Regions from separate parts of the Homo sapiens genome. Here region 1 is linked to region 2. Evidence: fine-mapped expression QTL. A gene starts in region 2. The other region holds a variant in brackets. All regions are shown on one strand. Distances are from middle to middle.

What was found. PIP is the estimated chance that this variant, and not a neighbour inherited with it, causes the effect. A credible set is the group of variants that fine-mapping cannot tell apart.
Region 1: its variant is the best candidate, but not a certain one, in a credible set for the expression of HGH1 in lung (TOPMed, PIP 0.83).

What each region holds. Positions count from the first base shown.
Region 1 is chr8:144,237,521-144,242,712 of GRCh38, reverse strand. MROH1 (maestro heat like repeat family member 1) reads right to left here. Exons shown (of 44, transcript NM_032450.3): 15 at 3,850-3,957; 16 at 3,534-3,678; 17 at 3,350-3,390; 18 at 2,958-3,099; 19 at 2,560-2,612; 20 at 2,036-2,143; 21 at 1,602-1,721; 22 at 1,196-1,318; 23 at 198-344; 24 at 85-111. Among named protein-coding and RNA genes, the nearest start is that of MIR7112, 23 kb to the left of the region's middle. The variant T/C (reference allele first, on the strand shown) is at 2,426.
Region 2 is chr8:144,134,580-144,139,771 of GRCh38, reverse strand. HGH1 (HGH1 cochaperone) reads right to left here and starts at 1,998. Exons shown (of 6, transcript NM_016458.4): 1 at 1,344-1,998; 2 at 1,165-1,265; 3 at 959-1,057; 4 at 672-763; 5 at 461-583; 6 at 1-384. The coding sequence starts at 1,936. The coding sequence ends at 220. RefSeq lists silencers at 1,301-1,420, 1,461-1,690, 1,701-2,160 and an enhancer at 2,351-2,400.

The DNA.
Region 1 (5,192 bases), 100 kb before region 2:
GCCTCTGCCTATGAAGCTCAACCCGCCCAGAGGAGAGCCGAGAGGAGAGAAGCCAGTCCAGCACTTAATTCCTACACACTGTACCTTGGTTTCTACCTTTATTCCTAGAACCTGAACAACAAAAAGTGAAATGAGTTAAGACGTGACTCCCCGGCAGCCCCAGCTCCCCTGCGTGGCAGGCCCACCGCAGTGCCCACCTTGGTGCTGAAGTGCTGGCAGATGTTCCGGAGGATGTCTGACTCTACCTTGGCCAGCACCAGCTCCCGGGGGGCCCGGGCCGCCACGTGCCCATAGCACAGGATCAGAGCACTCTTCACCTTCTCCACTTCGTTCTCACTTCGATCCTGAGAGGCCAGAGGAACCAGCGGGACTTCAGTTACACAATTACACTCCCCGACGGGAATCCTCGGCTCAGAAACTCCTGAAATCCTCCCAGAAGAAGGGCCAGAGCCAGTCAGTGACAGCAGAGGTGTGACCCAGCCGTGCACGGCACCACCTGAATCTGGGGATGGGGAGAGCCTCTTTGCAAGGGGCAGGAGCACAGGCAGCCAGCCAGGCATGGGCCCACTGGGTACCGAGTAACAGAGGGCCAAGGGCCGAGGTAGCAGAGGGCCGAGGGTCAAGGCAGCACAGCCACGTGAGAGAGTCAGGCAGGAGGCAGCTGAGAAGAGCTCAAGGCCCCACCCTTGCTCGCTGCAGATCAGCCTCCATCCGCACAGCAAGGGCTGGGAAGCCCTGCATGCTTGGTCCAGCCCTGAGATGCTGTAACTGGGACAGTTACGGGAGACAGGAAATAGAGGGACCACAGCCGGGTTGGGGGCCTGCAGCAGGGGCCCACTCCTTCCTTAAACCAGGCTTAGGCTCCGCCAGCACAGCTGGTGGTTTGGCAAGAACGCAGAATCTGCCAGCCACCAGGGGGCAGAGGCCTGCCCCAGCCGCGAACCCCTCTCATCACCCACACCTGGCAGAGACGTGGCCCTGGCCACAGCTACGTTTGCCTCCGGGAGGCCATTCTGCCGCCCTCCCCACTGGGAGCACCCACGCACAGGTCCTGCCCATGGAAGGAATGCAGGAGCAAAAATTGGTCCAGGGACGCAACCAGCTTCCTGCCCCACTCCAGCCCGCAGGGCACCCCCTGAGCCTCAAACTTGTGGATAGACAGCCGTCCCCAGCCCTGCACCGGTGTCACCCTAACCTTAAAAATGTTGAGAATGCCAATGGATTTTCTGAAGACCTCTGACCTCACGAAGTCCTCCAGCTGGGCCAGCGTGTCCTCGAGGTGGGAGATGGCACAGATCCCGAAGCAGCAGGCGAGGCCCTGGGGGGCAGCACACTTACCCCGGGCAGGGAAGAGCACGCACTGCCACACATGCACGCACACTGTCACGTGTGGACACGGGCACACCCACATGTACACACATGCGCACACTTGCACACACATCAACACATGCACACACCCTCTCTGCATATACGCACACCACCTGTGTATGCACACACGCACACACAGGCACACAGGCTAGCCAGCTGCCTCAGAGAACAGCAGGTGCCACCGTCCTCCAGCCCTGGGGTGTCTGGGGCTTCTGCAGGGAAAGCGGCCCCACCTCGCGTTCTGCCTCCTCCTGGTATCTGGCCGTCTCCAGCAGCTCTTGAAGGTGCTTCCTCACCACCTCCTTACTTGAAGCAGCACCCAGGGTGGTGCCTATGCATTTGTACAGGAAGTTCTGAAACAAAACCAGAGAACACGGCTCTGCCTGACTCCTGAGTACAGGGAGACCCAGCGCTGCCATGGGGCTGCCCCTGGGGTGCACCTCCTGCCCACAAGCTGATGAGAACTGCAGGGTGAGTCTGGGGCAACATCTGAGGAATAAGCGGTGGGGCCGGTGGGCTCTCGCACTCCTGGCCCTCAGCCACCACAAGGAGGCTCTGCCAGGCCACCAGGGCCACGGGAGACAGGGCCCAGACAGCAAGTGACAGACACGAGACCCAGAAACTCGGAGCCCAAGTACCACACCAAGAACGCCAGCAGGTGCCCCACCTTCTCCTGGGGTGCCTCATCGTAGCAGGGCAGCTGCCTGCACAGCTCCAGGCTCAGCTGGCAGATCCACGCGTTGTCAGAAATGATGGCCAGGGTGTCTCGCAGGAACTGCAGGCCAAGATGCCACTGAGGGGCTGGGAGCCCGACCCCTCACAGGGCTGGCTGGAGCCTGGGCACATCCCCATGTGCTGTGGCTGCAGGGGCTGCAGACCGCCTTCCAGCGGAGGCCGGGGGCGGCAGAGCCAACCCTCAGGGGACAGCCATGCCACAGTTGGCTCACCAGGCAGGGTGAGAGGTTGCCCCCGACGCTTGGGGCTGCGACTGCTAGAGGGCCGGTGCCTTGTCACAGCAAGGCCCCCGCTGCAAGGCTGCTGGGGTCTTCAGCCTTGA[T/C]GCTGCCTGATCCTTGGCTCCCCAGCCAAACCACGAGGTGAGGTCGAGGCAGGTGGCCCAGCCTCTGCCACCCCAGCACCCCCCAGGCCAGACAACACCTTAAGGCCCAGGATGGGCCGTACCCCGGCCCTCACCATCAACAGCTTCTCCTCCCACTCCTCCTGTGGCAGGGTCTCTTCTGTGTGCTCTGAAACGACAGCCGCGCAGGCCAGCCCATCCCAAAACGCACCAGTGGGGCTCAGAGCCCAGCACCTGCCCTGGAGCTGGGGATGCTCAGCACAGACAGGCCCCGCCGCCCCGCTGCCCCCCACCTGCTCCCAGGAAGCACCCAGCGGGAGTGCCTTTCAAGCCCCAGGTCATCTGGGGCCTTTCTTGGACAACAGGGGAGACTGTATTTTCCAATTATACAACCCTAGTCCCCATTGGCCACCCTAGTGCCACTTGGCAAAGGTGGGGTCAGAGCTAGCACCCTCCTACTCTGAGACCTGCCCTCCCCACAGGGCTATGCACCCCATCCTGACCCTGGCCTCACCATCCAGGTACCCCAGCAGCAGCGGGACAGTCGTTTCCCAATGCTGACCCAGCAAAGGGTGAATGTTTGGGTGCAGAACACTGAGGAGGCGCAGCGCCGCTGCCCCACGTCCGTCCCCTAGGTAGGGGCTGGAAGACACAACCTGAAAAGAGGCAGCGTGGGAGCCGGGTCTGAGCAGGGAGCACTGGTCATGCCCACAACCTGCACCTGCAGGACCACATCACCCGACGGGGAGCCTGGCTCTTCCCAAAGCTGGGCCGCCCACGTAGAGGAAAACCACACCTGAGCCCTGACCGCGGCTGCCCACTGAGAAGGTAACCCCTTCCAAGCCTGGGTGGAGCACAGGGACACAGAGTGGGGCGCTGGGCACGCTGTGAAAGGGCGAGGCTCACCAACAGTCTTCCGGTTACAGCATAGGGAGACGGGAGGCTCGCTGGAGATGAGAGGTGGAAATAGTCAGTGGGGGGCTGCCTGTAGCCCTGGGGCGGGTGTCAGGAACTGGAGGATGGGGAAGTGGGGGCAGGAGTGGGGAAGTGGGGGCAGGAGTGGGGAGGTGGGGTACGGCGCGGCACGCACCATGGGCGTCGTACTGGATGAGGAAGGCGTCGGCCCCGGCCTCCTGCCTCTTCTGCGCCAGATGCACGAGGCTCCTGCAGAGCGGAGTCAGGGCCCCAGTGAAGCGCACAGGGGTGAGGAACTGGAGCAGGTATGGCCAGAGGACCTAGGGGAGCAGAGGGCCTGGTCTGCATCCGCCCAGAGGGCGGTCCCATGCAGACAGGGCCCTGCCGGAGCTCCAAGGTGGAGACAGACCCTTTGCTGGGCCTGAGCACCCTGGGCCACTGCCCTGGAGAGCTCTGTTGTCGCCAGGCAGGGACGGGTGCCGTGCACTCACGTGACTCATCCTGTCCACGGTGGTGCTGACCAGGTAGAGGGTGCGCACGCTGATGGCCCGCACGCTGTCGGCCTTGGGGTCCTTGCTGCCGGGGCCTGGCTTCTCAGGCTGGAGGAAGGCAAAAGGCAAAGGCGTGCGTGGGCGGCCATGGCTCTGGGCCTGAGGACACAGCCTGCCCGGAAGCGGGGCAGACCCTGAGCCTCGCCGCAGGTCACGCAGACATGTGCACCACCTGCCACAGACAGGAAAGGCACTCTCCGCTAAGATCACCCAAGAAAGCAGGCTTACCTGCCTCAGTTCTCATCTTCAAAACAAACAAAACCTTGAGCATTTGCTAAGCTACTGACTCCATAAAAAATCACTGCTCGTGAGGTTGCAATGCCTGCAGGGGAGGAACAGGATAGCCTCTGTGGGAACGTTACCCATGTCAGAAAACCTGGTTCCCACCAGGACGCCACCCAGCCTCGGCAGCCACGGTGGGCTGGATGTCTGCTGTCCTCTCTGTACGCTCAGCTCCCCAGAAGGCGTCCCTGTAAGCAGACGACTTCTGTTTCCCACACGTTCCATTCAGGTTTTGAAATACCAAAAAGTAAAAGCTCAACCACAAAGCGGCATATTTGGAAAAATGGCAACACTGCAGGGACTTCTAATCCCTCTCTTTCAGAAGCTGAAAGTCACACAGAAAAAAAAAAAAAAACAGTGATATTTAGGCCTTGAACTTCAATTTTTACAGTAGGCACTAAAAATATAGATAGAACTTCATACCAAACATACACTTTGAAATCCTGACCATTAGGCCAAAAATAATATTGCAACCAACACTTAAAAGCAGAAATCAACCTGGCCAGATTCAATATAACAATAAATCCACAACACCCATGAAAACCTATCGACCTGGAGATTTTAAAGATCATAAAAGAATCATTTGCGTTAATAAAGAAACCAAATAGAAACTGCAAAATACCTGATAACGAACAGTGAGGACATACTCCACCAGAAACACGAACGTTAGGACACAGACTGGGGACAATGCCTGTGCGAAAAAATGCACCAAAAGTACCGCAACAGGGAAACAAGGAACCACAACGGGGAAATGAGGAGCCAAGAACAAGGAAAATCCCAGCGACAGGGTGTGAAAAAGTATAACCGTGAAATAAAGAATTCAATTCAGGAAACGAATAATGTAACGATTCACTGAGGAAGAAATTACTAACTTGGAAGAACAGGCTGCCGAAGACTTCAAGGAAGAAGAAATTTAAAAAGAATGGAAGAAGAAAAAGCTAAAAGATGTGAAGACAGCAGTGCTAGCCTTCGGATAACAGATACACCAAAGTCAGTGAGAC
Region 2 (5,192 bases):
GTACTGCTCTGCACAACCTTCATTCTTGCTGGTAGCAACACTGCACAGGGCTGGAAAGTGCCTCCAATCCTTACTGGAGCCTAAGCGTAGCTCTGCTTCTCAGAAGAGCACAGTCTCTGAACAAGGGGACCCAGGGGGCCTGCAGACAGCTGCAGGAAGGCCTGGTCTGAGAAAGCCTGGCAAAGGGGACCCTGGAGCTGGTGTCCGGCTGCAGGGGCCTCAGGTGGGTGTGGCCCTCTCCACCCATGGCTCTGGGGCCAGCTCCCGCTCCAACTGCTCCTGCTCCCTGCAATCCAGCTGCTGCAGCTGCTGCTCCACATCCTCAGGCACCTGCACCTCCAGCAGGTTTTCCATGCCACGTTCAGGCTCGTCCCCAATAAGCACCTGCCAGACGGGAAGCAGGTGAGCAGCTGGCCAGCTACAGACACCCCTTCCCCAGCCTCTCCAACCCTGCACCAACCTGGATGAGCTTCTCACAAGCCGTCCGCACGTCGGGCTCCGGCTCCCAGCTGTGCAGCTCTCGAAGGATCAGGTAGGCTCCCTGGTCCCGCACCTGCTGCCGACCTGGTGCTGTGGCTGTCAGCTGAGGAGGTGGAAGAGGTTACCCAGATGTCAGCATGCTCATGTGTGTGTGTTGGGGTGGTGCTTATTGCAGCAGGGCTCCTGCTCACCAGCATGATGGCTTCAACAAGCATCTTGCGGATGTCTGCATCAGGTTCTCGCTGCTTGTCTGGTGGCAGGTACTGCAAGTCGACAGGCAGCCCTAGGGGTGAGTGTGTGGGAGCCACTGTGTCCCTGGGCTGGGCAGCTGAGCCAGGCTCTGCCTGTGTAAGTCCCACCTGTGCTCAGCAACTCACTGCTGCAAAGTTTCAGGAGCCTGTGGCCTGGACACCTCTCTCTCCCTCCACTGGCCTCCCTCCTCTCCGGCCAACTCTGAGGCTCCACACTAGCCACTCACGTTCCATCTCTTCCTCGGAGAAATCCTCAGGCCCAGCCAAGGGCAGGAGCAAAAAGGGGAGAATGTCCACCTCAGGTCCAAGCAACCACTCGTGATGTCCTGAGGGATGGTGAGGGTGGGGAGACGGGAATGGAAACTGGTCCAGAGCAGCCCCGGAGTCCAGTCCCCACACCTGGCAACGCACCCCCGCCACACCCACCACTCACGGTGCTCGAAGCAGCAATTCCGCAGCGTCCCCACCACCCCGCCCCTGCGTACAGAGGAGTCGGGGTACTGGGTAAGGGGCAGCAGCCGCTGGACCACGCACCTGTTGGGAGGTGTCACTTAGGGCCGTCCCCCCTAACTTCCGTCCCCTCCCCGCCCGCGCGGGCGCCCTGGGCTTCACCTGTCGGGGTCCAGTAGGAAGGCCCGCGCCGCAGGGCGTTGGCTGAGGTTGGAGAGCAGCGGCGCTAGGTAGTGCAGGGGCGCGCGGGCGTTGTAGCCGGGCGTGCACAGCGCGCGCACCAGCCGCTCCAGGCCCGAGTCTGCCGGCTCCGCGGCCGCCAGCGCCGCCATGAGCGCTGCACACGGCGCCGGCTCGCGACTGAGGTTGGCTAGCGCGGCGGCCGCCTCCTCGGCCCAGGGCCACTGCGGGTCCAACGCGCGGCCCATCAGGCGCGCTGGCAGCCCGGGGTCGGCCGCCAGCAATGTCTCGTGCAGGCCGGGGTCGGCGGCCAAGTTCACGAGCGCGCGGGCGGCGTCCCGGGCCGGGGCAGAGGCCGGCGCCAGCTCCATCAGCGCCTGCAGCAGCGCCGCCTGCCCCGCCAACAGCGCGCGGCCGGGTCCGCAGCCAGTCAGCGCCAGCACGTGCCGCACCGCCGCCGCCTGCAGGTCCGCCCGCGCGCCCGGCGCCAGGAAGGGCAGCAGCTTCACCACCTCTGCCTCCGGGCTTGCCTCCGGCCCTCCCGAGGCGCCAGCGCCAGCCCCGGCCTCCCCCATGTCGAGCGACACTCTGCTGCCACCCGACCGGTGCCAGCGGTCCGCTTAGGGGTCCGCTGTGTGGCCCGCAACCCCGCCCACCAGAGGAGCGAAAGCCGCCCTGGCCAATCCGAGGCTGCGCACTGGGCTCAAGGGGCGGGACCGGCGTGCGGAGGGGAGGGGCCAGGCCGCGCGCGGGGAGTTATGGGTCTCGGCGTCTGGCCGGAAGCTGCGGAGGTTGGAGACTGAGCGCTGTGATGTCCCGAGCCATGGGGACCGAGGCCCGGCGCGATTTGGCCGCCTGCCGCGTCCACACTCGCTGGAAGCGTCCATGTAGTCTCGGCTAGGTCGGCCAGTGCTTCCCACTGGGCGCTGGCCACGCCGAACCTGGTCAGCCGGCCCTGGCTTCTCGTGGGCCCTGAGGGTCTGAGGCCCGCGCCCCGGCTCCTCGACTAGGCTGTCGGGTCAGAGAAGGGCTGAATGGGGGAGTGGCCACGGGCCTCTCGGAAGGAAGGCCTGCTCTTGTCCAGGCTGGCACGGCCACCGAGAAGCTCAGGCCGTCCAGGGACAGGACAACACAGGGCCCCAGTGGGGACCTGAGGAGGCAGCTTTGGAGAGGCCTCTGGGCATCTCTGAGCTGGTAGCTTTGGGGCATTTGTCAGGACGTCTTCAGTCGCAAGTGACAAACCCAACTCAAACTGACTTGCACGAAGAGAAAATTTGTAAATGGAGGTTTGGAGGGAGCCAGCTTCCGGCACTGCTTTATCCAGGAGCTCTCTGGAGCCTTGTACTGTCTACCCTACCATTGCTCTCCCTCTCTGCTGCCCTGCTGCTCTGTGGCTCCATATCATTTCCACCTGCCACTGGCCGATTTTCTCAGAGCAGTTGGGAAAGAAAGACACTGGGACCTCCCAGTTCCATGGTCGTGGCAGAAGAGTTTCTCTGTCCCAGTATTGGAGTCTGCCCCAGAAAAGGACTCCAGTTCTTCACGTGTCCTCCACTGTGGGCGGAGCAGCAACCTTCTAGAGACACACAGACTGGGAGGAAGGGAGGGCAAAAGAAGGGCATTCCCTCACTCCAGCATTTTTTGGGCACCAGCCATCTGCCAAGCTGGTAGCTCAGGACACGGAACCAAACAACTTTGGTGGCCATTCTGGCCTCAGGGTCTTTGCACTTGCTGTCTCTTCTGCCTGGAATGCTCTTTTCTCAGCTGTACACAAGGCTGGCAACTTCTAATTATTTGTCAGAGCTATCTTCCCTGGGCAACTTACAGAGACTCAGCCCACCCGCCACCCATGACTGCTTGGTTTCTGTCTGCCTCCTTCAAGATAGCAGTACTTAGGCCAGGTGTGGTAGCTCATGCCTATAATCCCAGCGTTTTGGGAGGCCAAGGCAGGTAGATCACCTGAGGTCAGCAGTTTGAGACCAGCCTGGCCAACATGGTGAAACCCCTCTCTACTAAAAAAAATACAAAAGGTAACCGGGGGTGGTGGCACACTCCTCTAGTCCCGCCTACTCGAGAGGCTGAAGCAGGAGAATTGCTTGAACCTGGGAGGAAGAAGTTGCATTGAGCCAAGATAGCGCCACTGCACCCCAGCCTGGGCAACAGAGGGAGACTCCATCTCAAAAATAAAATAAATAACAGTAAATTAGGCCGGGTGCGGTGGCTCACACCTGCAATCTCAGCACTCTGGGAGGCCAAGGCATGTGGATCACTTGAGGCCAGGAGTTCAAGACCAGCCTGGCCAACATGGTGAAACCCATTTCTACTAAAAATATAAAAATTAGCCGGGCATGGTGGCGTGTGCCTGTAGTCCTAGCTACTTGGGAAGCTGAGGCAGGAGAATTGCTTGAACCTGGTAGGGGGAGGTTGTAGTGAGTGGAGATTGTGCCACTGCACTCCATCCTGGGTGACAGAGTGAGACTGTCTCAAAAAAAAAAAAAAGAAAACAGTACTTAAAGGAAGGTAATAAAATTTAAGCTTCATGGTGCCTTGCTTGGACGGGTCCTTTCCAAAGCTTCCCTGAGAGCAAACCTTGCATAGTGTTCATATATATAGTCATAATGGTTTTGCAAAGTAGGGTGTAGCAGACATTATTGGTGCAAAACCCACTAGGATGGCTATGATCAAAAACACAGAATTTCTTTTTTTTTTTGAGATGGAGTTTTGCTCTTGTTGCCCAGGCTGGAGTTCAATGGCACGATCTCAGCTCACTGGAACCTCCACTCCCAGGTTCAAGCAATTCTCCTGCCTCAGCCTCCCGAGTAGCTGGGATTATAGGCATGCACCACCACGCCTGGCTAATTTTTTTTTGTAGTTTTAGTAGAGACGGGGTTTCTCCATGTTGGTCAGGCTGGTCTTGAACTCCTGACCTCAGATGATCCACCCACCTTGGCCTCCCAAAGTGCTGGGATTACAGGCGTGAGCCACTGCACCCGGCCAAAAACACAGATTAAACAACTGTTGATGAGGATGTGGAGAAATTGGAACCCACATACACTGCTGGTGAGACTGTAAAATGGAGCCGCCACTGTGGAAAACATTTTGTCAGCTCCTCAAAAAGTCAGACATTTGCTGGGCATGGTGGCTCGCGCCTATAACCCCAGCACTTTGGGAAGCTGAGGCTGGTCGATCACAAGGTTAGGAGTTCGAGACCAGAGTGACCAGCATGATGAAACCCCATCTCTACTAAAAATACAAAAATTAGCCAGGCACGATGGCACGCGCCTGTAATCCCAGCTACTCAGGAAGCTAAGGCAGGAGACTCACTTGACCCCAGGAGGCAGAGGTTGCAGTGAGCCAAGACGGTGCCACTGCACTCCAGCCTGGATGACAGAGCCAGACTCCATCTCAAAAAAAAAAAAAAATCAAAAAAACGCAAACAGAGTTATCATATAACCCAGCAATTCCACTCCCAGGCATCTAGTCAAGAGAAATGAAAACTGAAAACCACACAGAAACGTGAACGTGTACAAGCAGCATTATTCATAGTGGTCAAAAGGTGGAAACAACCCAAATGTCTGTCAACTGACGAATGGAAAAATAAACAGATAAATCCATGCAAAGGGATATTATTCAGCCATAAAAAGGAGCAAAGTACTGACATATGCTGCAACACATATGAACTCCAAAATCTTACGCTAAATGAAAGAAAGAAATCACAAGAGATCACATATTTTATGATCCCATTTATAAGACACGTCCGGAATAGTCAGTTCATAGAGACAGAAAGTAAATTAGCAGTTGTCAAGGGAAGGGTAGGGTAAGGGGAGTAGG